Linked DNA regions of Homo sapiens. The protein of the gene in region 3 interacts with the protein of the main gene of each other region in a biochemical or structural test. Each region holds a gene or a part of one and is shown on either strand. Other genes may lie near its edges.

Region 1 (7,926 bases), about 33 Mb from region 3:
CAGAAAAAAATAGCTGGGCATGGTGACATGTGCCTGTAGGCCCAGCTACTCAGAAGGCTGAGGCAGGAGAATCGCTTCAGCCTGGAAGGTTGAGGCTGCAGTGAGCCATGATTGCCCCCACTGCACTCCAGCCTGGGCAACAGTACAAGATCCTATCTCAAAAAAAAAAAAAAAAAGTAAAGACTGATAAATTGTACCTTATAAAAATAAAATAAATACATAAAATGTGACTAGCAATTTTAAGACACTTAAATATTTGAATTAATTTATTGAATACCTGCTCTGGGAATTAGTGTTGTGTTTCCATTTACAGAGACAAAACAGGTCTAATTGATTGACTAAACAATAGATGTAAATGTGGTCAGTGTTTGGATGTCTATTCATAGAATAGGAACAATTTTTCTGAGAAATGATTTGACTCTCAGCTGTTTCCTGTATGACCTCTCAATTTACATTTTATTCAAGAGTTTCTAATATAATATTGTGGAGCAAAGAAACTTGACAGCAACAGCTGTTGAGAGAAGGTAACTGTCATATTAATATTTCTGGGAAGAGGTATTGCGGTGTTACCAGATTCCAGATTTGCACCTTTTCCCCTCAATCCCTTTATCCCTCTCAAACATTATAGTGATTTATGAAAATATATGTATAATTCCAAATAAGTTTTAGATAATTCCATATATACCAAATACCCAATTATCTCTTTGCTGTCAAAGGGTAATTTATCCTCATCATGACACTTGCCATCATTACAAGTTTAAAGCCTAAAAATGAAAAGAGGTTTCACACATTTAAGAGCTAACTCATTTAATAATAAATCAAAAGTAAGTATGAGTTTCATTTAGTAGTAGCATGAGCTAGCTGCAGGGAAGGTCCTCTCAAGGTGGTCCTTTTTCTTCTCTTCAATAAAGGCAGAACTCTATTAAAGCATATTAGTAAAAACCATATTTAAAAGAATTACTACACTGAACTGAGCAGCCACCAAATGCAATTGGTACCAGGTGATATAAGGGCTTCTCCTCTCAGGGGGCTTATAAGCAACTAAGGCAGGAAGTCACAGATACCATATTCTGCAGTGTAATTTACAAATGAGGTGAAAACAAAGTGTTCCAAAATTCTAAGAGAGACATTGGAATTCTGACCACAAGTGTAATTTATGGAGCCTCAGAGTAATTATAGGATCTGGAACAGCTGGTGCTCAAATTTAGTGGTCCTCCAGTTGCTGGAATCTGCGATTTCTGGGAAGTTAAACTTTGTGTCACTGCTTCTACTTGTGATAAAATGAAACCGCTTTCAAAGAGAAGATTCCTATTCCTAGCCTTTTTGGGTAACTTCTACTACCTCCACTTAAGGATGAAAAGGGAGAAGTTTCCTCCAAGACTGCCTCATGGGGATCAGAGTGTCACCTCCATGCTCCTGCCCTAAGTGCCCCTGAGCACACCCCAGAGGGAGGCTAAGAGATTTTTGAGAAAGACCATGTGACTGGCTGATAAACACCTATTTTCCTCAGATTCCACCTGAATTTATATCATCAGTGCATCACTCTTTTATTTTGTTCTCTCTGTTCCTCTTTTTAAATATTAATATTCTCTGGAGAGGGGTAAAACATTAAATGAATTCACACTGAGGAAACTGGCCAGGTACAATGGCTTATGCCTGTAATTTCAGCAATTTGGGAGGCCAAGGCAGACAGATTGCTTGAGCCCCAGAGTTTGAGACCAGCTTGGGCAACATAATGAGACCTCGTCTCTACAAAAGAAAAACAAAAAAAAAAATTAGCCAAGCATGGTGGCACACACCTGTAGTCTCAGGTATTTGGGATGCTGAGGTGGGAGGATTGCTTTAGCCCAGGAGGTTGAGGCTGCAGTGAGCCATGACCATGCCACTGCACTCCAGCCTGGGTGACACAGCAAAACACTGTCTCAAAAAAAAAAAAGAAACTCTTCAGGCTGATCAGATCTGCTTTTCTCTGATGAGTTTCTTAGGAGCTCTACATTTCTGGTTGCTGCAATAGGCAAAGTATAGAATGGAGGTCAAGGCCTCAAATTTCTCTGACTTCCCAGCTGGGCTTGAGAGTGACTCTGGCCCTCAACTGAGGGCATTAGTAAGCTGTCCTTAAGAACGAGAGTGTATTTTCTGGCTGTATTCTTAACTCATTTCACTATAGAGCCATGTCTGATATTAACAGTGCAGTGCTAGACTAGAGAGGCCTGGCACTCCTACAGCCTTCTCCTGTCTTCTAGCTGGGACTTCACACCACAGACCCAAAGGAAAAGAGACCCAAAGATCCCTGCAGAAACCTGAGAATATTTCCTTTACCTCAGTGGTTTCATAATCTGTTCTTAGTTTCCTGTTTCTGCTGTAAATAATTCACTATATTTTTAAGAGAGAGAAGGTCAGGCCCTTGTGAGCCAGAAGGGATTTGAGAGATGATGAAAGCTACGTATGTTACCCATAACCTAAGGACTTCTGGCAAGGTGGCCTACCTGAGCTGGAGTCATGCCTTTTTTCCCTGGACTTGGAGATACCTGTCAGTGCAGAAAGGCCTACTTTTGATCTTGGAAATAAGTTTCCTGGGGTGAGTTCTTAACCCTTTCCAGCTTTCCCACCCTCTTTGGCTTTAGCCATGGCCTTCTGATCTGTGTTTCTCAGGGGACCTGCAGGCCCCAGATATAGCCCCATGCTGTCCTCCTACCCCAGAGCACACTGTTCAGGCTACTTCCACTGGTACTGAAATCCAGTATTTCACTTACTCTTTTTCTTTCCAATATCCTCATGACATTCAATATTTCACTTACTCTAGGTCCTCCCTGCCTAAGGCCCAAGTCAACTTTCTGTCCAGTGGGATTTGTAATCCAATACCTCCTAGCCCTAGCAGAATCCCATGTGGATAATCAGAAATGTGACTGGAAAAAGGACAGAGCTCTATGGCTGTGGGTCCCAGTCCCCACTGCTGGCAGTAAGTCCCCAGCAGTGAGCTGTGTAAGCACCTTACATTCTGCGCTTGGTTGAAAACAGCAAGGCAAGCATCCACTTGAGAAATGTCAACCCCTAGGAAATCCCAGCCTCAAGTCTTTCTCATCCCTTGGGAAGTGCAAATTGGATAGAGAAGAAACCAATTAAAAACAAAACAAACAAATCATACTTAGATATTCTGGCTTTTCTCACCAGGGCTGGATTAAAGCATGTACTTCAAAATAATAACAACTTAAGTCAATAAATAAATGTAAGGAAGTCCAAATGTTCACCTGAAGACAACTGTGGTCATTTTTTGGCAATCCCAGGTTCTCTTTTCTACCTGTTTGCTCAATCGTGGTCTCCCTCTCCCTCTCTTGTTGGGGCCCATGCCCCTGCTTTACTGTTGCCAGAGGCTTGTACTTGTTTGCCTTTTAGGTAGGAGCAGTTACTTCCACTCCCCTCACCTGCCATAAAGCATCTTTATAAACAAAGCAAGTAGAAGAAACACATCCTGGTATCCACCACATTCGGCTTTTGTTGATTCTGTTCACTTGGGAGCACCTGCTGCTAGGGAATAAGAAGGTTGAGGCTGAAGAGTGAGGACTCTTCAGCTCCCCTCTGGCAGGACCCGGGAGAGGAAAGAGCCCTCAGCTGGTCCATCCTCCCCACTCCTGGTCAGCCTTCTGTTCTGAGATCAAAGTGGTGGGGTCACATTCTCGAGAACTGTGCTCAGCCCCCTCATCTCACACCCTTTCCCTCTCCCTGTGTGCCTGCCCCCCTCTTACATAACCATGCTGGTGATTGGCACCGTCATAAATCAATACTTTGCTCACTTTCACATCAAGTAACACTATCCAGGGAGGTGGTTTCAACAAAGGAGGAAGTATAAGGAGATCTAGGTTCAAATTAATGTTGCCCCTAGTGGTAAAGGACAGAGACCCTCAGACTGATGAAATGCACTCAGAATTACTTAGACAAAGCGGATATTTGCCACTCTCTTCCCCTTTTCCTGTGTTTTTGTAGTGAAGAGACCTGAAAGAAAAAAGTAGGGAGAACATAATGAGAACAAATACGGTAATCTCTTCATTTGCTAGTTCAAGTGCTGGACTTGGGACTTAGGAGGGGCAATGGAGCCGCTTAGTGCCTACATCTGACTTGGACTGAAATATAGGTGAGAGACAAGATTGTCTCATATCCGGGGAAATCATAACCTATGACTAGGACGGGAAGAGGAAGCACTGCCTTTACTTCAGTGGGAATCTCGGCCTCAGCCTGCAAGCCAAGTGTTCACAGTGAGAAAAGCAAGAGAATAAGCTAATACTCCTGTCCTGAACAAGGCAGCGGCTCCTTGGTAAAGCTACTCCTTGATCGATCCTTTGCACCGGATTGTTCAAAGTGGACCCCAGGGGAGAAGTCGGAGCAAAGAACTTACCACCAAGCAGGTATGGTTTTTCTTTCTTTCTCTTTTGCTGGGGGCTGACCGCCCTTCAGCTCCAGCCAAAAGATGTGTGTGAACACAAATATACCTTCTGTTTGAGGTCAGCATCATAGTGGGTCGTGAATCATGTTGGCCTTGCTGCTGTCTCCTCATTTCTAGGGTGGAAAAAAAAAAGCATGAAAACAATCACTTAATGTTGAGCCCCATTACTGATGCTCTCTGGTCCTGCACTAGCCTCCTAGAAAAATCACCACAGGAGAAGCCTTAACTACTGCATGAGTTACCACAAGTCACACATACAACCAGCTCCCTGTTACAGGGCTGGAGTCCCTGGACCCAGGAAATACCACCTCCAAGGACTGTGGGAGCTGGGGACTATGGGAACTGGGATCAACTCAGTCCTGATTCCTTTTGGCCTGCTGGGTTAGTGCTGGCAGCCCCCTGAGGCCAAGGACAGCAGCATGACAGTCACCAGGACTCACCACTTCAAGGAGGGGTCCCTCAGAGCACCTGCCATACCCCTGCACAGTGCTGCGGCTGAGTTGGCTTCAAACCAGTGAGTTTTCTACCTCTACTATTGAAAGGGCACCTTGTCCCACAGAACCGAGTCTTGCCTGCATGTGGTCAGTGCCACCAGGTCCTTCTTCTCTCCACTTTACAGCCCAGCTCGGCTGAAGCTATGGCCAGAGGCACTGCTTTAAGGCCACTCCATATCTAGGACAGGTCAACAGACACCTCTGAGGCCACTGAGTCTTGACTCAATGAATCAGCTATAGCAGGCACTATTCCTCTCCCACATGGCCTCTAATGATATGGTCAGAGTTGAAAGGATGCTAAGGGAGGCCTCAGAGGCTTATTTAATCAGTTGGTTAATGGGAAAAAGTATTTTGTGGTACACAAATACGCTTTAAAAATATTTTAGTTATGTCATAAAAGTCTAAACCTGGGGTTGACAAACTATGGCTCACAGGCTAACTCTGGCCCACCAGCTGTTTTTATAAATGAAGCTTTATTGGAACACAGCCATGCCCATTCGTTATGTATTGTATATGGCTGTTTTTGCCCTACAACATCCTTTCAACTCTGGCCATATCATTAGAGGCCATGTGGGAGAGGAATAGTGCCTGCTATAGCTGATTCATTGAGTCAGCAAAATTGACCAATTGCGAAAGAGACAGTATGGCCCACAAAGCCTAAAATATTAACTATCTGGCCTTTAACAGAAAAAGTTTGCCAACTCCTGATCTAAAAGCTGTCAACTTGTTCCAAAATTATTATGGAATAAACCCAAGACAACCACAAAACTGACTAGACTAGGTTTTTTAGGTAATAACTTTTTAAATTATAAAGTAATACATGATTTCATGCTCCTTGAAAATGAGAAAGCAGTATAGATAAACCTAAATTCACCTTTGGCCATTCTGTCAATCCTAATCTCCAGTTTCCCCAAAAGTACTTAGTGTGATATATTTACTGCCAGACCATTGTGTCTGTGTGTGTGTTCATCTATGCATAGATGGACTATTAAACCTATCTGTTGCCATGTTGTTCTAATTCTGTTTTTCCACTCAATAGCAAGACTTGGAGACTTTCCATATCTGTATAGAGCTCTACTTCATTTATTTTAACTGCTACGTCATATTTCACAGTGTACACTTCTTTTATTTAGCCGTTTTCTTTTCGATAGATATTTAAGCTTTTCCAATTTTTCAGTCTTACCAATGAACCTCACTGTGTTTGTCTGCTTCTAGACATGTGCACGTATTGCACTAGAGGAACTACTAAGACGTTGAATTGCCACATCACAGGATATATGTGGTTCAATTTTTGGCTGCCAAACAGCCCTCCACAGTACCCGAACCGACTGTACTCCCACCAGCAGAGAAGGATAGTTACTGTTCCTCCACACTCCAAACAATGCTTGCTGTTTATTCAGTATTTTATTATTTTTTCCATTGAATTAGTGCAAATGACAACCCATTATTTCAATATTTTAATTTCCCTGATTATTAATGAAGTTGAGCATTCTTTTTATAGGACCCCTCTTGGCCATTGTATTTCTCTTCTTAAATTACCTATTCATATCCTTAGCTTATTTTATGTCGGATTTTTTTTCTTCTTTGTAGGAGTTTTTTATTTATTCTCAATGCAAATTATTTGATATGTGTGTAATATTCTCTCTAAGCTTTGTTTAAATCATACTTTTTAGCCAACAGAAATTTTTACTATTATTGTTGTTGTTATTTTGATGTAGTTGAATCTGTTAGTTTCCCTCTTTCTGGATTTTACTCTTTGAGGCTGATTTTTAAAAGATTTCTCAACTTCCAAAATTATGAAGCTACTTTGGTGCACCTTCCTGTAATACTTTTATTTAAAAAGTTAGTCTTTATTCACCTGGCACTTATTGCAATACATTATTTCAATACTATTTATTGAAAAGTCCATCTTTTTCCTATTTGTTTGAAATATCACCTCTATCATGTACTAAATTCCCACTTACACATGTCCATTTCTGTGTCCTTTTGTATTTATTTCCTATTCCTGAGCCAATTTCCACTATAATGTTTACCTTTTCTACTTGATTTTTTCCCCCAATAAATAGAAAATCTATTTTGTGTTTTGATATTTTGCCTAGTTACCTTATGGAATTCTCTTAATAGTTATAAAAGCTTATCAGTTGATTCCTTTGGAATTTCTAGTTAGACAAACATATCATCTATATATAGTAAGAGTTTTGCTCCTTCCTTTCCAATCTTTACAAACCTTAATTTTTTGTGTCTTATTGGTTTTTCTTTGCCATTCAGCATAATGCTGAGTAGTAGCCATGAAAGTAGATAGTCTCAGAAGTGATGCATACAGTTGTGTGGGTTCTATACTGCACAATTCTAGGAGATACTCTTTACAAACACTTAGATGTCCTAGGAATTCTTGTCATGTTCCTGATTTCCATTTTTATTTTGTACTATGAACTCATTTGGAAACTTCTCTTTGGGACTTGTTGAGATTGAAATTGTTTTCCTCTAGAGGATTTATTTTTGCTTTTGCCAGGAACCTGAGGACAGAACTAACTGGGACCACCATAAGCTTGGGGTCTACTGGCCACACAAATAGTGAGAATCCTGACCCAAACTTACTTGATTGCAGGCCTGTTGTTAAGAATTTCAAAGGAGACTTTTCTTTTTGCTCTACCCAGAGCCAAGGCTGAGAAGGCCTGGGATAGACCTGTCTCCCTCCATGGTTTCTACTGAGGATGTCACCCTTAGGGGATCTTGAGTTTATAGTCTATGATCTGGTTAGGCTCCAGGCTTTGTCTCCTATTCTACCATTAAAATCCAGGCCCCAGGCCTACAGGAGTCCAGAAAACTCCAGGATGATCATGACTTCCCTTTCTCATGCCTCTGGCTTAGCATAATCTTATAAATTTTGGCCTCTTGAGACTTCCTTTACTTTCCTACCAGCTCAATCCTGCATGAAAAATGACATTCTTAAAAATTTAGTATTTCTAGGTGCTGCATACCAGGAGGATTTTC
Region 2 (8,084 bases), on a different chromosome or scaffold from region 3:
ACTGGTTTTCTTCATAAAAGACCTAAGGCTTCCCTGAATGCAAAAATAAGGATTCAGCATACTCTAAGGATCAGAGAGACACCTCAATAGAAACACAGATCTTGCTGTTTGTCATCATCCACACAAAGGGTCCCTACATGAAAACATATCCAGGGTGGAGAGAATTATAAGAGAATAAAGGCCTAGACCACATCTGAGTAATCAAAGCTACTTTAAAATAAGCTCTACTCACAACACACTTTCTAATTTTTAGAAAACACTACAATCTTACAGAGAGATCTGATGATTAACACATTAATGCTCCTTGGCTATTTCTCAGATATACTCTCCACATGTTTTTCTGGTTAAGTAGCATGATATGCTACAACCCATTTGAAGAAAGCATTGTTTTGCTCTACTACCAGAGTCTCAATCAAAGTTCAAGCTCTCAACCTACATCTTCCTTTCTCTATGGCCTTTCTTCACCCATCACTATCATAACTATAGCTTTCGCTCCTGGAAGAAAACTGATAATAAAGCCGAGTAAGAGAAGGGGCATTCTCTATAGGCCAGGATGGATCTGGACAGGGCGTAGTGCCACTGAGGATACTGTTCCCACATTTGAACAGCTGGCCTAAGGAGAACCGTGCTGCAGAAGAGTCCAGTGCGGAGGCCATTCAGTTGTGCCTTTGAGAGATGCTGCTGCTGATTTTGTATTTAGAAAGACCTCCCAAGAGCAGACCAGGAAAAATCCCCTGATGCCAGGCCACTAGATAGAGTTTCCAGGAACACCAGATCATTATAGTTCCCTTCCCCCAGACATGGAAAAACACCCAAAATGTAAGTTTCCTACCATTCTTGGAAATGATCCCTTTGAAGAGAATGATACTATTTGCTTCCAAAAATCAATGGCTATTCACAAGCAGAGTGGCTGGAGAGAGACTAAAGAATTCTTAGAGAGACTTCTCCCCCGTGCCCTGCAAAAGGGAGTCTCTCGTCGTCTCTGGTCAGAGGTGCAGAGTGCCTTCCAGGACCCCACCCACAGAAACGTGCAGATGGAGTTGGCCTAAGCAGCGGGAGGGCGCCTACCTGTGTAGCCAGCTAGGGCAGCAGCAGGAATGACAGGCTTGTCCTTATTGAGGTCAGCACGGTCCCGCACATAGTCCTTGAAGGTGCCCTTGGGCTTGTGGTTGGGCAGGGCAGCCGGATAGTCCTCTGAGTCGAAGCTGTCATAGGAGGGAACACGCTGCAGGCTGTTGAAAGATGACTGGCTGCTCCAGGACTGGGTGAGGCGATCACAACTATCGTAGCTCTCTATGCTTTCAAAAGAGTCCTGGCCCCCGAGTTTACCTGGAGGTAAAGGAGGAGGTAGGAAGAGGACAGGGGGAGGAGGGAGTGGGAAAAAAAAAAAACTGTAAAAACCCTCTTATGGAGGACAGATTGCTAATCAGATCTGCAGGAAGGACGGAAGAAGGGAGAGGCGAGTGGGAACAGAAGCTTCAGGGGTCATGGGTTTACTCTGAGGAAAGGGGCTGCACTAGGCCACCATCCGAGGGTCCACGGCCACTCTGCTGCCTGGTTTGAGAACTCCAAGTACAGAGATTCAGAGTCAAACGTTGCTCACATCTGTCGGAGTAGCGTTTGGGTCCTCAAGAGTTCTAAAGCCAGAAATCTAGAAGCTGAGGATCACACATGTTATGATATGATTTCTGGCTGATGTCGTAGGCCCAATGAATAAATGAAGAAATCAGAGCAATGTCAGGCTGAATTCCCCACTCCAGCTCAAGCCAATGAGATGACTTCAAAAGGCCCAGTTTGGAAAACATTTTGGTCATAAGAAAAAAGAATCCCATTAGACTAAGAGCAGATTAGCCTGTTTTGACCTTGGAACTAAGTGCTATTTTTTAGCATTTTTCCCAAATACTATTTTAATATGAAATACATGTACTGACCCTATGCCTTTTCAAATAGAGTAAGATGGTGTAAGATGCTTTTCCCAAGAGATTTTTTAAAATCACACACACTATCACTCTTCTAAACAGAAAACCATATTCTTTATCCTCTCCAAGTAAAATTATGTACTTGAAATTTAAACTTCATTGGAAAAGTGTAGGCAATATTTAAAAGGTTTATTAAAGAGTTAAGGTCCACAGCAGTGTCAGAAATCCTTTACTGTGTGAGTTGCTTAAGGCATTCTTAACTGACCACAAGATCATGCAAGTTCATTAATTTCCCAAACCAGGTTATAAACAGCTGCTATGATTGCACAATAGCTCCTGGAGAAATTTCCATTGGCAAAAATGCCACTAAAAAGGAGGCTAGCAAAAAAAAAAAAAAAATAGTTTTGGAGGAAAACAAATGAATCTAAGAGCGAAAAAGGCTCGCAGGAATGGTTTTTATATGCAACTTTCAGATACTTTTCAAGTAACCTAAGTTAAATCATAGGAGACTAGATGGTCACCTCAATTCAGCACAGGCCAAAAGGCAAAGGGATGTGACAAATGTTTACGGAGAAATATCCGTAAGTCAACTCTTAATTGTTCAGGGGTGGTTGATCTATAAATTTCAAATCCCAGAATAAGGCTGACTTATACAACTTCATATTAGTGTGCCTCCAGTGTATTTTTCCCTCCATGACAGCGGAGATTGGTTAAAACAATAAACATCAAACATGAACAGATGCCCAAACCTAAATTAAATATATAGGAAAATATGTTGCTCCCAACATTGTTTAAAGATCCGGATAAAATGTATTCGGTTGAGTGTGTACTTTTTGTAAAATCCACTGCTGTGGGTTTTCTCTACATCCTGACCCCCTCTGGAACTGCTTTAAACAGAAAGGTGGTGTCATCCGTTTCATCTCATTCCTTCCTCCACTCATCCATTCAGAGGAGGGTAATCTCTGGAAAGCAAACTGAAGAGCTTCATGGAGTTATCAGCCCTGCCCACCCAGTCCACTAGCAAAAGGGCACCTCTTCATTCTTACTAAAAATGAATATATATTTCTTTATAATTCTTAAAAATTCTTTCCCATTTACCCACCAGAAAAGTCATCTTTTTCACCTTTTTAGAGATCATTTAATTTTCTTTCAAGAAATTCACACTAAATGATTTAAGAAAACAGCCTACAACCAGAATGTCAAAGCCTTGTTTTAGCAGAACAGGAAATTCTGTGGCGTCTCATAAAAAGGTATTTGTTCATACCAGCTACTGATCTTCATGGTCACTTATTTTCTCTTTGAGACAAACATACCAAAAGCCTAAGAAGGAGAATTTATATTTTCATCAACACCGCACCAAGTCGATAGTATTTATGCTAAAGTCTCTCTGAAATGATTCCATTTCTATCAGCCAATTTTATACTTGGAGAAAAAGGACATCAGAATTTTCACAAGCAAGATAGTAGAGTTTCCAAGGAGTCCCACTAAGCAAGGGGACTAAACCAAGCCAGAACCAGTCTCTGGCAACCCCCCAAACATGAGGCAAATGCAACCCTGTTGAGAGTTGTGGTTTACAGCGGTAGGCAGCTTTCATTTTAGCTCGATTTCACAACCCTGGTGCTGGGAACCTTCATTTACGGGTATTTTCTCCAAAAATGGGTAGAATCCAACTGGATTAGATACTCAGTTATGCTGCTGCGCTCATGTAGGGAAACCTGTGTTCTCTAAACTGTCCACTAGCCAGCCTTTCTGAGAAGGGCCTCGGCGAGCTCCTTCCAAAGCTATCTGAGTCCACCAAACAGACCTCAGAGCACTCAAAACAGAAGATGCGGCAGCACCCAGCCACCCACTGAGTAGACTCGTACAAAGACAGTCCTTAGGGCCCAAATAAGTGGGGCATAGAAGCACTCTGTACGCTGTAATGCAGCCCGTGAATACTGTACTATGGTTAGTATAAATAACAATCAGCTAACAGTAATGCTTTCGGTCTAGACCAATCACAGCATCTCAGAATCAATTGGCCCTTTGCATAGGCCCTGTTTGCAGCACTTCTAACATGCAGAAAACAGCCCTGCACAAAATGGTCTTCCCCTCAAGTTTCTGTGGCCTGAACTTGGAGGGAGGGAAGAAGAGTGGAGCCAGAAAGAAATACCTCATGTCTCCTTGTAAGGGTCACTTTTGGTCCACAGTCATTAGTTTGGGGTTGGAGGGGTGGTAGGGACCAAAACCAAGAATGAAGAAAAGGAGAGGGAAAGAGACAATTACACAAATGCAAAGCCAGATGCAATTTCAAAACAATGTGACAGGAGATCGACCCAAAGTTACAACATGGCTGAGCCCAAACCCACAGGCTTGGCCTCACTGTGTAGATGTACAGAAAGTCCCACAAGGAAGAAAGTCGTTTTAATGCTTTGACTCGCCTGATAAAAAAGAAACACATGTACACACACTTGTGTGTATGTATTTAAATAGACATGCACCCAAAAATAAAAAAGAGCCAGAAAGGGGAAGGCCGACTGGTCCCACCCATCCCCTTCGGTCTGAAACACTAACACCCTGGGGCCTTAAGAAGGAAGATTAGGGGTTCTGATTTTGCAGGGACTTTCCCTCTGCAGGGCTTGTTGGTGATCCCTAGGCCTGCTAGGAGGAAGTGTGAGTCTGAATACTCGAAGAAGACGACAATGGGCATGACCCATGATTCTTCAAAGTAAAGGTACCATTGGGCTCTCCTCCAAGAGCCTCACAATAGGCACCGCATATGGTCAGTCATTGAGCAGAAATCACTAATAGGCCAGCCCCAGCCTGACATCTGACCCAAGCCCCGCTTGATCAGCTTTCTCCTGTTCCTCTTCCCATTTATAATTCTTTCCCATTTACCCACCAGAAAAGTCAGGTTTTTCACCTTTTTAGAAATCATCTAGCTCTTGCTAAATAGACAAACCCTTTCTTACAATAGATTGCATTTTTCTCAGAAACAAAACAATCTGGACACTTTACTAGGTAGGCTGTACCTCTGAGTGTTTATGTCCTGTTCCTAAAAATTGGGTGCATTTTACCTTTTTTGCTTTATGTCACCCAGCTCTATTTTTAAACACTTTCTTCCCTGACAGTGAATATTTTATCACTATTATAATAGTCACGTTAACAAAACTACCTTCTTTTGGAAACCCCTGGCCACCTCCGTCCCTGGTCCTCTAGCTAAATACACACTTCACCACACTGCTGATGACTGGTTCCAAATAAACCGTTGGTTAACCATCTTGTATCTTCCCAAACCGAAAAAGTCACAGGAGGCTAAAGATCCCAGGCTGGCCAGCAGAGGTCATTCCAGGTACCCAGCTAGGATCTACAGTCAGACCCAGGAGTCCTCTGGGAGGAGCACCAGGACACATGCTAAGCTTAAGGGTTTTCCAGGGTGGCCACTTGAACCATTTTTACTTGATTATGTCCTCCTCAAGGAAAATAGAGCATACCTTTCAAAATGACCAAATTCAACTAGAGTTATTGAGTAAAACATTTTGCCCAAGTAAGATATTTAATTTCTTAGATTGCCTGATTTTGATTTCACTGTGGACCCCATGGCCTTTGTCATAATAATGGACTTGGCTAAAACACCACGATGGAAAGTTCTTAGTATCTGGACACTCTAAGATGGGAAGGCTGAAACTGAGGAATCTACAGGTCTAATAAATAAGAAAAAAAAAATGGAACCTGAAAAAAACTCACAAAGTCAGGTAATTCTTGTAAACCCAAGAGCTTTTAGAGAAGAAATATGACCTACCACGACTGGTCCTCCCCATGCACATGTTGTCTGGGGTGACGACTTCTTGTTTGATAGCAAAGTAGTCATTCTGCAAGGTGTCTGTCTGGAGAGGGTCTCGGAGAATGACCGAGGGGTAGTCATTCTCATACTTGAGGGAGAGGAGCTCTTCCGAGCTGATGGGATGGAGCGTCTGATAGGACTCTGTGATGAAGCTGGGCTCTGAGAACTCCGATGGTGGAACACACTGGGCATGCTCAATACCATAGCCTGGAAACAAAGGGTTTGCAAGTAAAGAGAGGAGAGATTTGTACCTAAAATAAGCAGTTTTCACCATCTACAGGGCCCTATGATGTGGGACAAGCTCCTTAGAGAATAAGGGAAAATACTTTAAATCAGAAAAGCTTGCATTTTTAACCTTGTCCACTACTAAACAGCTTTAGCCCTTGACAAGGTAATTGATTTCCTGACTTCATATCCTCATCTCTAAAATGGGGGTGATTGCGATTTTTCCCGGAGCACTGTGATGAAGATGAAATGAGGATAGAGGTCAAATGCCCACCAACATTCCCCACACAATAAGCTCTTGACACAGAGTAGTTAATATCATTGTGTCACTGGAATAAAAATTGTAATAACGTAAAAAGATAAAACGAAAAAAATAAAACCTGTTTCATATTCCCTGTAAAAGCACAGCCATCAGATAAGATGGTCCTATATCTCAGAGCTTACATTAGTGCAACAGGCCTACATTCATTGTTTCCCTCAGGCCATCTCTTCAGTATGGTTGGGTATCTTACACGAAAAAGGAGAAGACTGTATTTCCTATAATAGAATTTGAAGCTGCATAGCACACTCTTAAAGAAGGATTTTGGAGGAAATGCTGTTATCTCCACTAGTAAAAAGGAAAGAACAAAGACCAAGATCAAATCCCTAACCCAACCCTCTTTTGGCCATCGTAGTGCACAGTATCAAATAGGAACAAAAGTTTAGGGGTCTAGTTGCAGTCTCTCTGCATGACTTTCAGGTGAAGACATCAGAGAAGGATCCTAGTGTGTAGGAACTTGGTAGGTTAATGAAACATATATATAGGTTGAAACTTTGTGCTTTGTGGAAAATAATAAAATAAAGTAACAAAGAAGAGTCTACATCTAAGAAGATATTATTTTTGATAGAATTACCATGAAGGAGCCTGAGATTCACTGAGATAGGGGTCTTTTCCTAGTTTGCTATTATCATGAGAGAAGAGGGGTAGAAATGAACTTACTAATGAAGTAATCCGAGGTATAGCGGGATTCTGGATAGGCTGGGTTGACTCCATTAACTTGATATGGTTTCACATCCTCTGTAATGAACAGATAGGGAAGGAACAAAGAGGTCAATATTCAAGTCATGCTTGGCCTAAAAGGATCTTGGATGCAAAGACCACAATGATCTCAACCCCTTTTCTAAGAAATCTGCATACTCATTAACTGGGTTGGTATCTGAGTCTGTCCTGACTGTGGCCTTGTCTAAAGATGAGATCAAAAAAATATGACTAAGGTTATTATTTCAGTAGCTGCAAAATGGGATTTAGTATCTTGGAAAGAGAATCCATGAGTAATCTCTAAGGGCTCAGAAGGCATTCAGCATTCATTCTCAATGCATTCGTGCTGCGTGTATGTCGACCACACTATAGCCAAAGGCTTGAGTACATCCCAGGTTAGCAGGATCAATCCCCAACCCCCAAACTAATCAATTTCAAAATTTCTCAAAAATATATTGCAGTCTTTAGGCCATAGATTTTACGTTCTCCATTTCCTCTAACAGATGTCTGGTTTTTGTTTTGTATTTTTCCCATTGCCCTCAGGTTTCAAGTTCAGGCCCAGACAAGAAGCAGGACACTGGTAAGGTGACTCCATTTGGTGAAATGCGACTGCGCTTGTGTCAAGGGAGAGAAGAGCAACCCAGTCAAGCTCCTGCCCAGATGCCAACTCCCCTAGGAAAAGGAGAGGAAGGGAGACGAAGTGCACCTGCGGACAGAAAGCTCTGAACGACCCTGCAGTAAGCCTGGGATCCTCTAATTACCCTGGAACAAATGCCATGGCTCCGATTCTTGTATGGAGTAGTCTGATTATATTTCACCATAAGAATCTGACATAGAGTATGGGTTTGGGTTTTTCCTCAGGTATTTGATAGCTTGTTAGGAGCAAAGTCTGATGGGAAAACAAGTTTATGCCTGCACAGAAAAACAGTTCCCAGTTGAGATAAAATGATTAAACTTTGCTTTAGCAGTTTATCAGATTGAAACATCCCCGTACCTTTCACCTTCCACCCCACCCCAAACAGCTATGTTCTTTTGCTGCTGTGTTGCTTTAATTACAGAACAAAAGCTGTAGCCTCAGCACAAACATCATGCTCATCTC
Region 3 (8,069 bases):
TGTTTTTCTCATTTTGGGTAAGTTCTCTGACGAGTAGGTTAAAACTAGGGGGGATCAAAGTTTGTCTCATGTAACGAGATAATAAATCATCAAAACGGACTTCATTAATTATCCTGTGCTCTGTGCTATGGCTACGAGTGCCCCGTGAAGGGGTGACTGACCAATTTAGACCTTGGCCCTTTGGGAGTTGCAGAATGCTTGTTGGTTCTGTTCAATGCAGACATTGCAACTCGCCGACTAGAAGAATAGTCCTTTAAAATTCTTGTGTTGCATGGTATTATAAAGCAGTCTGTATGAATGAATACAGAAATTCACTCTTGAACAGCGTATTTTTGCTTATTTGTCTAACAAATTTGTTTCATCAAAGTGGAAATGGCAGAGCAAGTAGCCTTTTATTAGATACAATCATAAAAATCTCACTGCATTCAGAGTGCTATTAAAAACCTGTAACAATATATGATCTATTTATTTTGATGTTGAAACCATGAGGTTGTTAGTTGTCTGCATATACACAATTGATACAACCATTCTAATGATAAAGCTGGTCAAAAAATGAGTTCATTCATTGAGTGACTTAATATCCATAAAGCCATAAAGCCGTACATAAACATAACCGTTCATAAATGGTTATATGCTTCAGGAAATCAATGTGTATTTTGGAAGTAAACTGGAATTATTAGACTTTTATCAAGTTTTAAACACAAATCATCAAGTTGATAGGGAGCACAAAATATTGACAATAAAACCAATATTTCCTTATATATTTTATTTTCTCAATTTTTTCCTTCATATTCTGAATATATTGGTTAATTTTCATAAATTAATTTTCTTGAATAAATGAGATATTATAAAGTATGGTTAGAATCCTTTGAGAATACCAATATACAAACTAGTGATTAAAGACATGCCTTTCTTCATAAAGTAAAATAAATTATTTTAAAATAGAGAAAAATCTTTAATTTTTAAAAATCTGTATACATTTTTATTTTATAATTAATAGCTCAAAAGAACTAAAGTCATTTTGCAATATAATGATTACATATAATGCATTACTGTGCATTCCAAAATTAAGCAAATTATCATTAAACATATTTAATACTCAAGTGTTCCCATTAAAGTCAGTGTTTCTATAATAGTTCCTTAGACAATTAGATGTATATGATTCAAATTTCATTAAAAAATTATAAATCAATGCTATTATCATTTAAAACATTTGTAGGTCACTTTTATTAATTATAATTCTTTTTTAATTTTAAGGCTTAAATAATTTTTGCTTTTCAGATTTTAGGAAGTTAAATACAGGATAGGCTAATTTACTAAATAAATTGTTACTTATTTTAAAGTAAATAAATGGCATTTTGAGTATAAAATTAGATTTTACTAGATTATTACCTCGATTCTGAATTGTATTTTCATGCTGGCCAAATTATCTTCAAACACAGAAATAGTGTATTATTCTCATTATTCTCAATCTATAGGATGACCTACTATTTAAAATATGTGATTAGCTATGTGGTAATTGCTTAGATTTATTTATAGCATATATTTTTGATAAAAACTATTGTGTCTTCCAAAAATTATGTTGGAGGATACTTCCTGTATTACCCTTTAAATTAAATTACAGAAATCTTTGGCGGATTCCTGAAATTTAATTTAAAAGGTAATATTGAAAAATCTCTACATTAAATGATTTTACCAAAGTCTAAATATCTGACCTCTAGATTCTTTAAAATCCACCAGAAGATTGGTGCCAAACTTACGCATGTATTTAGAAAATGCTTAATAATAACAAAAGATAGAGCTTAAATCCTTCAAATCAGAATAATGTATCAACTCAAACTTTGATTTCTAAATGTATATAATTTCATTCCTAAATATGAGAAAAATTGCATTTAAAACAAGTGGAAAGTGAATATTATATTGCTATTCAATGGAAGAAATTTACCCAATTCAAGTCTTTCTCCATTTGTAAATCAACTCTAAAACACTTTGTTACTGCATAAAGAATGAACACACTGGCAAAACATATGTATTTGGCTGATTGTGTTGAGCCTGTGAATTCTTAGGTTTAATTTTTGTTCTAAAAAGTTATGTGAGATAAATGTTAAAACTTAGAAGTGAAGTAAGTCTCTTCAGAATGCAATTTTGAGAAAATTTACCTTAGTTAATGGGCTTTAAATGTCATGTTATTTCTTGCTATAATTTCTGTATCTTATGCTAAAATATGTTAATTAAAACTCTATTTTATTCTATGAAATCCATTGTTGTTGATATTCAGATTGTTCTGTTGTGTTTAATATAAGGTTTATAGCTGTTTTTAGATAGTAAATGTAATTTAACAACCGAATAAACCTTTAAGATAAAGAAGTAGCACCTTTTAAATATTGTTATTTTATAATATTCATTTCATTTGCTCCTTATTCTATAAATATTTCCATTAAAAAGGTTTTTAGATTTAAAATGTCCAAGTTCATTCTTTTCTTATGTAGAAAACAGATTTTCTTCCTTACAACAAAGCCAACAGTGATTTTAAATTACTACACTTACTAATATTTCTTTAAAATTTATTTGGCATGTTGGCTTTTTAGATATGCTTAATGCTTACTTCACTTAAGACAAATTAAATTGGAGGGGTAAAATGAAAGATGCAAAGAGATTATTAACTATCAAGATTCAAAGCATTCATTCTGAAATATTTAGGCCCGGTCATATGTAAACTGTCATAGGAGTCAGTACCTGTAGACATCACATTGGTGGCATGGTTGGAGACTGGTAGACACTCGGCAGCACTGTGATGCATTATCAGAGGCAGAGTTGCAGAGGCGTCAGAATTCAGAGGTATAAAGGTATCAGCCGAAGTAAAAGCTTGGCAACTCATTCCCACAAGAGAGTAGAAAAATAAGGAGAACCGCTGCTCCCCAAATCAGAGTTTTATTATATTACTGTCTCAAAGGGCCGATTCAATTCTCACTACCTGCATATATACATCAGGAAGGCTCTGAGGCACCAGGAGGGTGCGCGCTAGTATTTATACTGCAAGGAAATCCCTTTATACATGTTAATAGTCTTTTCCCAGGAGTATTGCTTTATCAATCTGAACCGTCTTCCTTTTTTACCCCAAACATAATCCATGGCAGAGAAGGAAGCTGATTCTGGGGTATAGATGGAGGGGAAGGGAGAAATCTGAAACCTTATTTGACAACTTCAGTAGTTCAGACCTTTTAGAGAGGAATCAACAATTTTGAAAACACGTCCCTCAAAAAAATAATGCCACAATCAATTGAAAAATAGTAGGTATCTTTTTGCTACTAACACAATTGCAAATGTATAAATATGAGATTTTTTTAAACAACTTCTCATTAAATCTGCGATAAAACATGAAACAAAAGAAGTGCATAGTATTATACATAATTTTAAGAAACAATATTTAAGATTATGAGAGAAGCATATAATACTAAACATGAGAAAATATGTTGTCAATTAATGATTCATACTCAAAAATGCACAGCTTTTAAAAACGATGACAACCAATATAAGTTTTACTATATTATAAGTGAAAAATGGAAAAAAATTGGATAAAATGTAGTAATGATAGGTTGGTGCAAAAGTGATTGCATTAATGGCAAGAACCGCAACCACTACTGCACCAAAGTTAAATACAACTAAGATATGGGTAATTGTTATCTTTACCTCGATTTCAATTCACTCAAGAACCCAATATTTAGTAAGCTGTTACTAGATGCTGACAGTATTCTAGGTATTTATACAGTTACGTCATGCAAATCTCACAACATCTATGTGAGTTATGTACCTTGCCATTCTCACTAAGCTAGACTCTGTGCCACAAAGCCTGAGATAACCATGGTAGTTGCTAACTAGATGCAAACTTCTCACACAAAATATATTGACTTTATATGAGAATGAAAAAAATAATATGCTACAGCCAACTATTTCAAAGATAAATAACAGCATCAAAACTTTACAATGATCATGATTTATGAGTATGTAATGAGTAAATAAAATACTATTTATGTATTGTATATTAAGGTAATATAGCAAATAGAAGTAAGCGAACAGGAATAGATATTATTGATGTGAGTAGACACTAATTTTGTACTACGGAATGTTTTAAGATAATTTGGAATTGGTTGCTTTGTATCAAATTTCATGTTAATATTGATAAGACATTTTCAAAAACTTGAACACTTTGTCAGTAAGCAGCTGATATTTTGAAGGAAAATATGTAAAAGCTTGCCTAAATCATTAGATATGGAATGAAAATATTTATTCTAAAAATGACATATTTTTTCATTCTGAATTCTATATCTTTGAAGCTTTATTAGTCTTTTCTAATGAGAGAAAGTTTCAAGTAATCAAAAGCATTATTATACCCTTGCAGAATTCTGATCATTTTCAGACTTCACATATACAAAAAGGTGATTTTCAGTATGTCTATTTGGAGTTTCTGTTAAGAAAATTAAATAAAAGTGTGTTTATTGGGTATCATGTATGTTAAAAATTAAGCTAAATGATATTTATAGAAAATGTAATTTGAAAATGTCCCTTAATAATTTTACTATTGTTATATAAAGTCATTGGAATATGTTGGTAAAGTATGTGAAAAATATACTTTATGAAGTATACTGAAGATACTTTATGAAGTACCATAAAACCTGCCTAGCAAACAATATAAAATTTTCCCAGTTATTTACCATGATATCTAAAAAGTTTTAAATTGCAATCGTAGAATTTCTTCCATAATCATTTTTAAAAATTAAACACCTGTTCTGTTAAAATGAGGTAAAGCCAGGAAATAAATGTTTCCATTACAGTCTTCTACGATACAATATATCTATAGGATTATCTGGAATGTACCCCTTTAAGATAGATTCTTAGAAGTAGAATTACTAAGCTTAAGTCTTACAAACTTTTAACATCTTGAAAACATTACTAACTTGCATTTTCAAATAATTAATTATATTATGATTTTGATGTAAAATATCAGGAGTAAGTCAAGCAAAAAGAATTGTTTATTATCAGGAGACACAGGAGTTTCTTGGCACTCACAGAAAAGAAGGAAGTCAGGCCATAGAGACAGACTGAATAGAAAATGAGGGCACACCTCTCTGACTCTCCTACCTGCTTTTTTTTTTTTTTTTTGTCTCAAACTTTTTTCCTTCTCTATAGAACAGCCTAGGCTGATTCTCCATCCATGTTCACCTCAAAAATCTCTAGATCATGCCTTAAACTTTCAAGGAGGCAAACAGACTATCTTGTAGCTTCTCAGTCGACATTTATGATAATTTTTTTTTTTTTTTTGGGGAGTCTCACTCTGTCACCCAGGCTGGAGTGCAATGGCGTGATCTTGGCTCACTGCAAACTCTGCCTCCCATGTTCAAGAGATTCTTCTGCCTCAGCCTTCCAAGTAGCTGGGATTACAGGCGCTTGCCACCATACCTGGCTAATTTTTGTATTTTTTGTACAGATGGGATTTCACCATGTTGGCCAGGCTGGTCTCGAACTCCTGACCTCAAAAGATCCACCCGCCTCGGCCTCCCAAAGTGCTAGGATTACAGATGTGAGCCATGCGCTGGGCCGAGAGAAATACTCTTATTGGCTATAACTTTTTGGTAAGTTCCAGAAGTATAAAGATGGTTCCCAGTGGTCCACACTTATGAATGGGTAGGATAGTCCTGGATACATTCAGATGTTTGTAGACAAGGAGGGATAGAACATTGTCTTGGAAGACACCCTTAAAATATGACTGATGCTCTTATACCATCTTACACTAGCATTAGTGGTGTAAAATCCACAATTGTCTGGCATTCTCATTGTTAGTAATAATGTGTAAATATATATGCCTTATTAATCTGATAGGATAATATTTTAATATTTTAATCTGCATTTTTGATTGCTGATATGCTCTGTTTTCAGGTTTATATTTGCTATCTGTATTTATCGTTTTGTTAATTAACAGATTCTATATTTTATCCTTTTATTTAAAGGCCATTCAATTTTATTATCCATTTGTGTCTTTTACAAATACACTGAAAATTTTAATTTTCATTGCTCTGATCATTGTATGATTAAAATTTTCTTAATGTCTCATCTTTTAAATTTATGCTGGACCTTGGTATACATAGTATTTTATGTAAGAGCTAAACATGTGGTTCATTTTTTGCATGCATTTTTAATGATTTCAGACTTTAAAATTTGACCTTATCCAAAGGCTTATTTATTTATTTTTACTTTTGTTTTGTTATTTTGGCACCTTAAGAAATTTTCTATTGACATTTTAAGCTGCCATATTCTGTATGTTTCTAGAGCTCATTTATAATCACTTAGATAATAATGAAAATTGTAGCTCAATTTGAAAACTACCAGATAAATAAGAAGAAAATTCTACTTCAATCTAAGATGATAAAAGAAAATATGCAGAAAAGAAGTCTTCGCCAGGTGTTTTTAGCCTGATTTATTCACCGTATTTCCTCTTAAATTAAGCAAAGGATTGATTTTTTTAAATACTCTGAGTTTCAAAAAAAACCACATCTTGAGAAAAATATATATAACCCCAGAAAAAATCCTGTCATACTAATATAAAGACACATGCACATGTATGTTTATTGCAGTACTATTCACAATAGCAAAGACTTGGAACCAACCCAAATGCCCACCAATGATAGACTGGATTAAGAATAAGTGGCACATATACACCATGGAATACTATCCAGCCGTAAAAAAGAATGAGTTGATGTCCTTTGCAGGGATATGGATGAAGCTGGAAACCCATCGTTCTCAGCAAACTAACGCAGGAACAGAAAACCAAAGACCGCATGCTCTCACTCCTAAGTGGGAGCTGAACAATGAGAACACATGGACACAGGGAGGGAAACCTCATATACCGGGGCCTGTCTGGGAGTGGGGGCTAGTGGAGGGATAGCATTAGAAGAAATATCTAATGTAGATGACGGGTTGATGGGTGCGGCAAACCACCATAGTAGGTGTATACCTATTTAACAAACCTGCACGTTCTGCACATGTATCCCAGAACTTAAAGTATAATTTTAAAAAAATAGCTGGGCGCGGTGGCTCATGCCTGTAATCCCAGCACTTTGGGAGACCGAGGCGGGCGGATCACCTGAGGTCAGGAGATCGAGACCAGCCTGGCCAGCATGACAAAACCCCGTCTCTACTAAAAATTCAAAAATTAGCCAGGCGTGGTGGCGGGCTGTAATTCCAGCTGCTTGGGAGGCTGAGGCCTGGAGAATCGCTTGAACTCGGGAGGCGGAGGTTGCAGTGAGCCGAGGTGGCGCCCTTGCACTCCAGCCTGGGCGACAGAGCAAGACTCTGTCTCAAAAAAAAAAAAAAGAAAAAAAGAAAAGAGAAAAATATGTAACCCCAGAGAAAAATTCTATTAAGAATTAATATTCAAATCTAATTATCTCTGGGTTATATATAAAATTAAAACCTCTTTTCCTCTATTTTTCATATTTATGTTTTCTAATTTTTCTACTTTTTTTTTGTGAGTTCAGAAGCAGTATATATATTCAGCATGGAGATAGATTCTGTAATTAAACTGTCTGGCTATAAACCCAAGCTTTATACCTTAGTGGCTATACATTGATGGACAAGTAATTTTACCCTTTAGTGTTTTGGGTTATTTTATCTGTAATATGGAGATAATAGTAATATTAAACCCACTTACAACAATACTTGGCATGTAATAAGCTTTCAATAAATGTTAGCAATTACTAATTGCAAAACTTTTTAACTATTGTTTATGCATAGTTAGTCTATGTGCTTTATATGTATTATCTCATTTTATTTTCACATTAACCTAGTGATATAGGCACTAGTTTACTGACTGGGAAACTGAGATAAATTCTTACCAAAGGTCATTCAGTAAGTGGTGAAGCTGGTGTAGTAATATAAGCCACTTAAAGCCTGAGCAAGCTACCTAATACTGTCCTCTATTATATAAGGAAAATCTATATAGATATTGATATTTGTCTAAGTCTAGTTCTGTATCTCATCTGTGTATCTTCATATGTAGACTTTTTGTTTGTCAC
Region 4 (8,084 bases), on a different chromosome or scaffold from region 3:
TTTTTTTTTTTTTTTTTGTGACAGAGTTTTGCTCTTGTCACCCAGGCTGGAGTGCAGTGGCATGATCTTGGCTCACCGCAACGTCCACCTCACGGATTCGAACAATACTCCTGCCTCAGCCTCCCGAGTAGCTGGGATTACAGGCACTCACCACCACACCCGGCTAATTTTTGTATTTTTAGTAGAGGTGGGTTTCACCATGTTGGCTGGGCTGGTCTCAAACTCCTGACCTCAGGTGAACCGCCTGCCTTGGCCTCCCAAAGGGCTGAGGTTACAGGTGCGAGCCACCGCGCCGGGCCCTTTTCCGACATCTTAAACGTAAAGTAGGAGACGTGTCATAATCATCGAATACTGCAGTGGTTTTCATTAGCTCCTGTTTGTCAAACTTATGAACAGAGTTTTAAAAATTGTGTATCAGCCGGGTGCGGTGGCTCACACCTGTAATCTTTGGGAGGCTGAGGTGGGCAGATGACAAGATCAGGAGTTTGAGACCAGCCTGGCCAATATGGTGAAACCCTGTCTCTACTAAAAATACAAAAATTAGCTGGGCATGGTGGCGGGTGCCTATGGTCCCAGCTACTCAGGAGGCTGAAGCAGGAGAATCTCTTGAACCCGGGAGGTGGAGGTTGCAGTGAGCTGAGATGGCACCACAGCACCCCAGCCTGGGTGACAGAGCAAGACTCCGTTTCCAAAAAAAAAAAATTGTATATGAGAGAGACAGAACTAGACAGAGAAGAAGGAGAAAATGTGTCTTCTTTATACACTATTTTGTAACTTGCTTTATCGAGTAGGTTATGAAAAATCTTCCTATGTGAAAAACATTTCTGCATCATTTGAAATGTCTATATAATATCCCATTGTGTTTAGATACAATAATATTTAGCCAATCTCTTTATGTGTATATATTTAATACAGTCATTCTATAAATATTGACTGAGTAGCTGCTGTGGGCTACTGTCCGCAGTGCTGAACAAGACAAGCATGAATCCATGAAACTGATTTTCATACCAGAATATAAAAAAGAAACTTAAAGATAATCCTCATCATGGTAAAAGATGAAGAACCTATTTTTGCCGGGACATCTTACTCTTTAGTAATTGGTGGCCAGTGTTCTTTTTCTTGCATGCTGTTTTGGAGAGTCTGTTTTTTAAATAAATATTTAAGTAGCCTGGGCGCAGTGGCTCACGCCTATGGTTTCAGCACTTTGTGAGGCCGAAGGGGATGGATTGCTTGAGCCCAGGGCTTCAAGACCAGCCTGGGCAACCTGGCGAAACCCTGCATCTACTAAAAATACAAAAATTAGCCAGGTATAGTGGCGTGTGCCTGTGGCCCCATCTACTTGGGAGGCTGAGGTGGGAGGATCCCTTGAGCCTGAGAAGTGGAGGTTGCAGTGACTGAGATGGCACCACTACACTCCAGCCTGGGTGACAGAGTGAGACCTGGTCTCAAAAAATAAATAAATATTTATGTAATCATCTTTAAGCAGTGTTTTTAATTTTATTTATTTATTTATTTATTTTTGAGACAGGGTCTCACTGTGTCACCTAGGCTAGAGCACAGCTGCATGATCACGGCCTATTGCAGCCTCGACCTCCCTGGGCTCAGGTGATCCTCCCACCTCAGCCTCCCAAGCAGCTAGGACCACAGGCACACGCCACCAGGCCTGACTCATTTTTGTATTTTTTGCAGAGACGGGGTCTTGCTATGTTGTTCAGACCTGTCTCAAACTCCTGGGCTCAAGCCATCCTCCTGCCTCGGCCTCCCATAGTGCTGGGACTAAGCCATGAACCACTGCACCCGGCATAAGTGGTCTTTCTTTAAAAAAAAAAAAAAAAAAAAAAAAAAAAAAAAAAAAAAACCACATTAATTAAAATATGTATTTGCTTATTATAAATATATTTGAAACATGCCAATTTTTCTTCTCTTTTTTTGCTCTATTGGTTTCTGTGTGTGGATGGATATATTTTTAATGGCAAATAGGATGAGTGTCTTTACTTCCAAGTAGTCAGTGTTTTTCTTTAATGTTTGTACTAATTTTGTCACATTGCAGTTAGAGGTTGTGGCCTGTCTAATTTCTGCTTTTTTGGAACTTGAGAGTCTCTGTTTTTATTTGTTTTTGGTAGCCTGGCATAGAGTCCATTTTTCTTTTCTTTTCTTTTTTTGAGACGGAGTTTAGCTCTTGTTGCCCAGACTGGCGTGCAGTGGCGCAATCTCAGCTCACTGCAACCTCCGCCTCCTGGGTTCAAGCGATTCTCCTGCCTCAGTCTCCCCAGTAGCTGGGATTACAGGTGCCCACCACCACACCTGGCTATTTTTTGTATTTTTAGTAGAGACGGGGTTTTGCCATGTTGGCCAGGCTGGTCTCGAACTCCTGATCTCAGGTGATCCACCCGCCTCGGCCTCCCAAAGTGCTGGGATTACAGGTGTGAGCCACTGCGCCCAGCTGTAGATACTTTTTAAAAAGGTATAGTTTCTGATTATGGGGTAGAAATGTGCTATGTCTGTCATTTCAGCCTTATGAATTGCCCAGAATAAGCTAGATCACCTTTAAGGCCATGTGGTTAGGGAAACTTGGGCACAGAATTTACATTTTCAACTTGGTGATAAGATGGGTTTAAGGTAAGAATCAAATAGGAGAAAGCCTTAGCTGTTCCAGCGGCCCATGTTTAAAAGAATGTGCTTCTTTTTCCAAGTATTTCTGCCGCTTGCATGCACTGAGCTTCTTTGGAAAGGAGCACCATGCAGGCATATTTTCCAGACAGGACCGGATTTGCTCGTTACTCAGAGGTGTGTGCATTCTTTGCTTTTAGGATATTTAATTAGCATCTTTTAATAGTGATATTACGGTGTCTTAAAAGTTTATGCATTTGAAAAGAAAAGAACTTACTCCTTGCCAGGTCTCAACCTATCATGGTTATCTTTGCAGCTGAGCTGCGTTGGTTTTGAGGCTCACATATGGTAAAAGTGGTTGGAAATCTGGAAATATTGCTGTGTATCTGCAAAGCAGCTTGATATAGTGGAAAAGGTATTAGGTCATTAATCATGAGATTTGGATTCTAGCCCCTTAGCTGCTGCCTGCCAGGCCTGGAGACCTTTGTTCTCTTCTTTAAACTGCTGCTTTCTCATCAGAAAATGAAGTTCCTCTCCATACCACCTCTCTGAAGGGCTGTGAAGCTCGAAGTGGCAGCTTAAAAAACTGCCCATCTCAGGAGGTGTCTTAAGAAGGAGGACATACCGCTGGCTCCTGCCTTTCTCACTTAGCCAGGTCTGATACCTGTGTTGTTTTCACTGTGGCCATTTTAGGATTTTTCAAAGGCTTTCAGAAAGCAACATGCTACCGTACCCCTTATACACCAAAACTGGTTTTCATTTTGGAATATAAAAGTGAGATTTCTCCACCAGTACAATAAAGTTGTTACAAGTGGTTCCTATGTGTTTGTTTTTGTTTTTGAGACAGAGTCTCACTCTGTCACCCAGGCTGCAGTGCAGTGGCACAATCTTGGCTCACTGCAACCTCCGCCTCCCGGGTTCAAGCAATTCTCCCACCTCAGCCTCCTAAGTAGCTGGGACTACAGGCACCCGCCACCACGCCCAGCTAATTTTTGTATTTTTAGTAGAGATGGAGTTTCACCATGTTGGCCAGGCTGGTTTTGAACTTCTGACCTCAGGTGATCCACCTGCTTCAGCCTCCCAAAGTCTTAGGATTACAGGCGTGAGCCACCACACCCGGCCTCCTGTGTGTTTTGAAGGTGATTGTGACCTCAGGTTTTGGCAGGGCTATACCTTGTGTTTGCTCTTACTCCAACTCCATGGCATACCTGGACCAGGCCTCTTCATCTTGAAGAGGGATCTGCTGAAATGCAGGCCCAGTGAATCTCCCCATGCCTGGACACAGTTCCGTCAAGCCAGGACCCGGTGCTGCCTGCACCCCTGTTTCTGTTAGTCTGACTGTCCTCGCTGAGTCTAACTCCTTGAGGGCAGAGAGGATGTCTTATTTATTTCTGCCCCGCTAGCCGTGTAAACTGAGTAGGTACTTGTAAATGTTCATTGAATAAGTACCTGATTAATAGAATTTAATTCAAGAAGAATGTATTGATGGGCCTGTGTGGTCACCACAGTACTGAGATGTAGGTGGGAGCTGGCTGAAGGGGGAGGCACCTAAACAGGAGTGCAGACAGCGGCACCTACGGATGATGGCCCGCTCCATCCCACCGCAGCGAAATTGTCCCAGACCTCTGCAGCTTCCCCCACACCTAGACTGAGAGAGAGCTCTTCTTCCTTCTGTAGGGAGCAGGTGTTTCCTCCAGATGTCCAATATGTACCTCCCATTACAGCGGTGTTAGGAAGGTGAGGGCTGCCGCTGAAAGGGTCCCCTTCATAATCATCACTAGATTTGGGGTATATTATGGATTAAATAGAATTTTTATAAGATGACCTGAGGATCTATTTAAATAAAATCCTCTTTCTTTCTGCAAGATCATGGATTTAAATTCAACACAACTGACTTCATAGGGAAGGGGTATGGTGAAAGGGAAGTGAGGTGGGCAGCACTGATATTTAACAAGGTGAGGGTCCTTCTCCTGCTCTGACTGTCACATTAAAATATTCCCAGGAGAAATTGGAGAAAACTCAGATGAAATATCGTCTGTGTTCCAGGAGGCAGGACTCATCGGAATGCTTTTATTTTGCTCCATTTTAAGAGATTTGCAGATAAAGAGGAGTGAAGATTTCTATTCAGATTTACTTGCTTTATATTTTAACTTATAGACCACAAGCCAACTTTCGAAAGAGCATCATTTTGAATAGTAAGAGTTAGGAAGGCAAATACAGAAGGACTAATGGCTTCCAAGATTATGAGCTTCATAGGAATGGTTTGAGATGAGGCTATAGTAAAGCAGAATATTGAAGTTCCCCCACCCCCTTTCATTTTTCATTTTTCATTTTTAAGAGTGAGCGAGGCCAGGCGTGGAGGCTCACACCTGTAATCCCAGCACTTTGGGAGGCCGAGGTGGGCAGATCACAAGGTCAGGAGTTTGAGACCAGCCTGGCCATCATGGTGAAACCCTGTCTCTACTAAATGTACAAAAATTAGCCAGGCTTGGTATCAGGTGCCTGTAATCCCAGCTACTCAGGAGGCTGAGGCAGGAAAATTGCTTGAACCCAGGAGTCGGAGGTTGCAGTGAGCTGAGATCGCACCACTGCACATCTCAGAAAAAAAAAGAGTGAGGCCCCAAGTTTTTTTGCATTTGTTTGTAACTGAATACGTCTGAAGTTATGTGATAACCACGCCAAGGTGACAAATTGCCAAGTTTCAGTAAAAGAGACCCAGTTATTTAGAGGTTGACACGTGGATATGTCCCTTTCTAAGAAGTTCGTGGTCAGCTTTACATGAGTATTTAAATGCGTGTTTATAATTCAGCAATATGGCTTGTAAAATACAGATTGCCAATCAAGTGACATGCAAATCTTGATGATCTGAAACAAGTTTTCTTCTGTTATCTATGGAAGAAATGGTAATAGGGATATTTAAGTGGGATGAATTTTTTGAAGCATTTTCAGGCAGTTTTCCACATGGAACAAAATAACATTGAGTGGGCTGCTAACATGAGGAACATATTGCCCTCTGCCTAGGATTATGAGTAAATTTGATAAATTCTAGACTGCAGTCTCATTTTAGCTCATTTTATGAGGCAGCTTGACAACTGGGATAGTGTCTCTTTTTTTTGTCGGGGGTGTTGAGGCTGGAGTCTCGCTCTGCTGCCCAGGCTGGAGTGCACTGGCGTGATCTCGGCTCACTGCAACCTCTGCCTCCGGGGTTCCAGTGGTTCTCCTACCTCAGCCTCCTGAGAAGCTGGGATTGTAGGCATGTGCCACCACGCCCGGCTAATTTTTGTATTTTTTAGTGGAGACGGGCTTTCACCATGTTGGCCAGGCTGGGTCTCAAACTCCTGACCTGAAGTGATCTGCCCGCCTCAGCCACCCTAAGTACTGGGATTACAGGCATGAGCCACCACACCTGGCTTCTGTTCTATCTGTGCATTGGGGATGAAATTAACACAAATGATGTTTAAAGAAAAAAATGCTCAGAGAAGTTAGAAATGTGCTTTAAATTGGAATCATCTCTTAGTATGTAAAAGTTTTTTGTAATAGAAACAAGCAGGGCAGTATTTGACCTGTTGACAGTGTCCTTGGACTTTACAATTTGTGAAGCAGCGTATTTTGCTTGAGTTGTACGATTGTCGTTTTTTTCCCCCCACTTTGACAACTGTTACAGAACCTGTCACCAGATACAGGCAAGGGAGGTTGGGCTTCCCATCTCTGCACGGCTTCCCTGTGATTCACAAGCAAGCAATCAGAAGTGCACAAAAGTTTAGAACGCGATTTTCATTCTCTTCTTTCCTTAGAAAAACTCGCTTTGTTAGCCTTTTCCAGAAAGGAAGGCACTCAATTGTTGTAATACTCAAATCATAAAAAGAAGCCTAGTCTAGTCTATTCAGCAAGGTGTTCTGAAAGAGGGAATTTTTTAAGTTCAATTATGCGAAGATCTTGAAGGTGGGACTCAAAGGAGAGGGCTATCCTGGGAAGAAGGCTTTGGAAAATGAGAGGCATGAAGGGGAGAGGGTATTTAAATGTGTTTGAAGCCAAGGATCCTTGAGAGAAAAAGCTGGCACTAACAGCGTTCAAAGAACTTGCGTGACAAGTGATGACTAATGACACTGAGGGTGGGTTGTGGGTGCCTAGTGAATTCCTCCGAAGCCAAGAGAGAGGTTTCCAGACCCAGGGAAGAAGGTGTGTACACCCAGAAGTAGTGTAGGGACAGAGATTCCGATCACAAGCTGTGACTGGAAGACGCCGACCACCACTGCAGCAGCCTGAAAACCACAGTCTTGAACCGCCAGCGAAGGGCTGGGAAGTGCGGATCCAGGGCTGGTGCACTGAACCCAGAGGAGCAGGCTCCCATTCCCAGCTAAGGGTGGCAGCTGGCGGGGATCTTTCCAGCAGAAAGCTGTAAGTGGAAGCTTTCAATTCAGAGCAGTAGCAATGCCTTCAAAGTCCCAGGCTTCACGTGGGAACAGAGAATGTGAAGAGTATTTAGCAGGATGCCAATATAAGAAATCTATATTGGTGTTCGTTTGTTTGTTTTTGAGATGGAGTCTCGCTCTGTCACCCAGGCCGGAGTGCAGTGGTGCGATCTCAGCTCACTGCAATCTCTGCCTCCTGGGTTCAAGCGATTCTCCTGCCTCAGCCTCCTACATAGCTGGTACTACAGGCACGCGCCACCATGCCTGGCTAAATTGTTGTATTTTTAGTAGAGATGGGGTTTCACCACGTTGGCCAGGCTGGTCTCAAACTCCCGGCCTCATGATCCGCCCTCTGCAGCCTCCCAAAGTGCTGGGATTACAGGCGTGAGCCACCGCACCTGGCCCAATATTGTTTGTTTATTTATTTCTTGACAGGATCTCACTCTGTCACCAGGCTGGAGTGCAGTGGTGTGATCTCAGCTCACTGCAACCTCCACCTCTCTGGCTCAAGCAATCCTCCCTCCTCAGCCTCCTGAGCAGCTGGGACTACAGGTGCACACCACCACACCCAACTAGATTTTGTGTTTTTTGTAGAGATGGGGTTTAGCCATGTTCAGCTAGTCTCAAACTCCTGGGCTCAAGTGATCTGTCCGCCTTGGCCTCCCAAAGTGTTGGGATTACAGGTGTGATTCATGATGTCCAGCCCAGTATTTTTCTTTCACTCTGGAAACCAAAAATTATTGGCTTTTTTTCCTGTTGCATTCCCTTTACTTAGATGAATCTAGCAAGGTTGGCTGTTAGTGTCTAGGTCAGAAGTCTAAGTGAAAGTGAATATTTAACCACACTCAAGCACAGCTGATGATCTTTAATACTAATAGAGGTATAAGACTTAAAAGAAACAAGAACCCAGAGGGAAAATATGGCCATGGACTCAGAGAAAACCACGGCAGCTTCCATGGACTCATAAAAAGAGCTCAAAACCTAGGAAGTGGATGGAGACTCTTTTTGGAATGAATGAATTCAAATGTGGGCTTTCTTAGTAGATTAAATCATTTTCTAGAA

Evidence for each region.
Region 1: the proteins of POU1F1 (region 3) and NR1I2 form a complex in vitro, tested with the Homo sapiens proteins (one study listed by BioGRID).
Region 2: the proteins of POU1F1 (region 3) and ETS1 form a complex in vitro, tested with the Homo sapiens proteins (one study listed by IntAct).
Region 4: the proteins of POU1F1 (region 3) and PPARA form a complex in vitro, tested with the Homo sapiens proteins (one study listed by BioGRID).

The regions. Positions count from the first base shown.
Region 1 is NC_000003.12:119,777,901-119,785,826, forward strand, and holds the start of NR1I2 (nuclear receptor subfamily 1 group I member 2), read left to right. Parts: upstream 1-4,200; 5' UTR 4,201-4,400; intron 4,401-4,809; exon of another isoform or gene 4,810-4,857; coding exon of another isoform or gene 4,858-4,952; intron 4,953-7,926. UniProt on the Homo sapiens protein: Nuclear receptor that binds and is activated by variety of endogenous and xenobiotic compounds.
Region 2 is NC_000011.10:128,479,123-128,487,206, forward strand, and holds part of ETS1 (protein C-ets-1), read right to left. Parts: intron 7,025-8,084; coding exon 6,947-7,024; intron 5,950-6,946; coding exon 5,701-5,949; intron 1,330-5,700; coding exon 1,069-1,329; intron 1-1,068. UniProt on the Homo sapiens protein: Transcription factor. Directly controls the expression of cytokine and chemokine genes in a wide variety of different cellular contexts. May control the differentiation, survival and proliferation of lymphoid cells.
Region 3 is NC_000003.12:87,273,585-87,281,653, forward strand, and holds the start of POU1F1 (pituitary-specific positive transcription factor 1), read right to left. Parts: upstream 3,001-8,069; 5' UTR 2,879-3,000; coding exon 2,737-2,878; intron 1-2,736. UniProt on the Homo sapiens protein: Transcription factor involved in the specification of the lactotrope, somatotrope, and thyrotrope phenotypes in the developing anterior pituitary. Specifically binds to the consensus sequence 5'-TAAAT-3'. Activates growth hormone and prolactin genes.
Region 4 is NC_000022.11:46,153,170-46,161,253, forward strand, and holds part of PPARA (peroxisome proliferator-activated receptor alpha), read left to right. Parts: intron 1-7,872; exon of another isoform or gene 7,873-8,084. UniProt on the Homo sapiens protein: Ligand-activated transcription factor. Key regulator of lipid metabolism. Activated by the endogenous ligand 1-palmitoyl-2-oleoyl-sn-glycerol-3-phosphocholine (16:0/18:1-GPC). Activated by oleylethanolamide, a naturally occurring lipid that regulates satiety.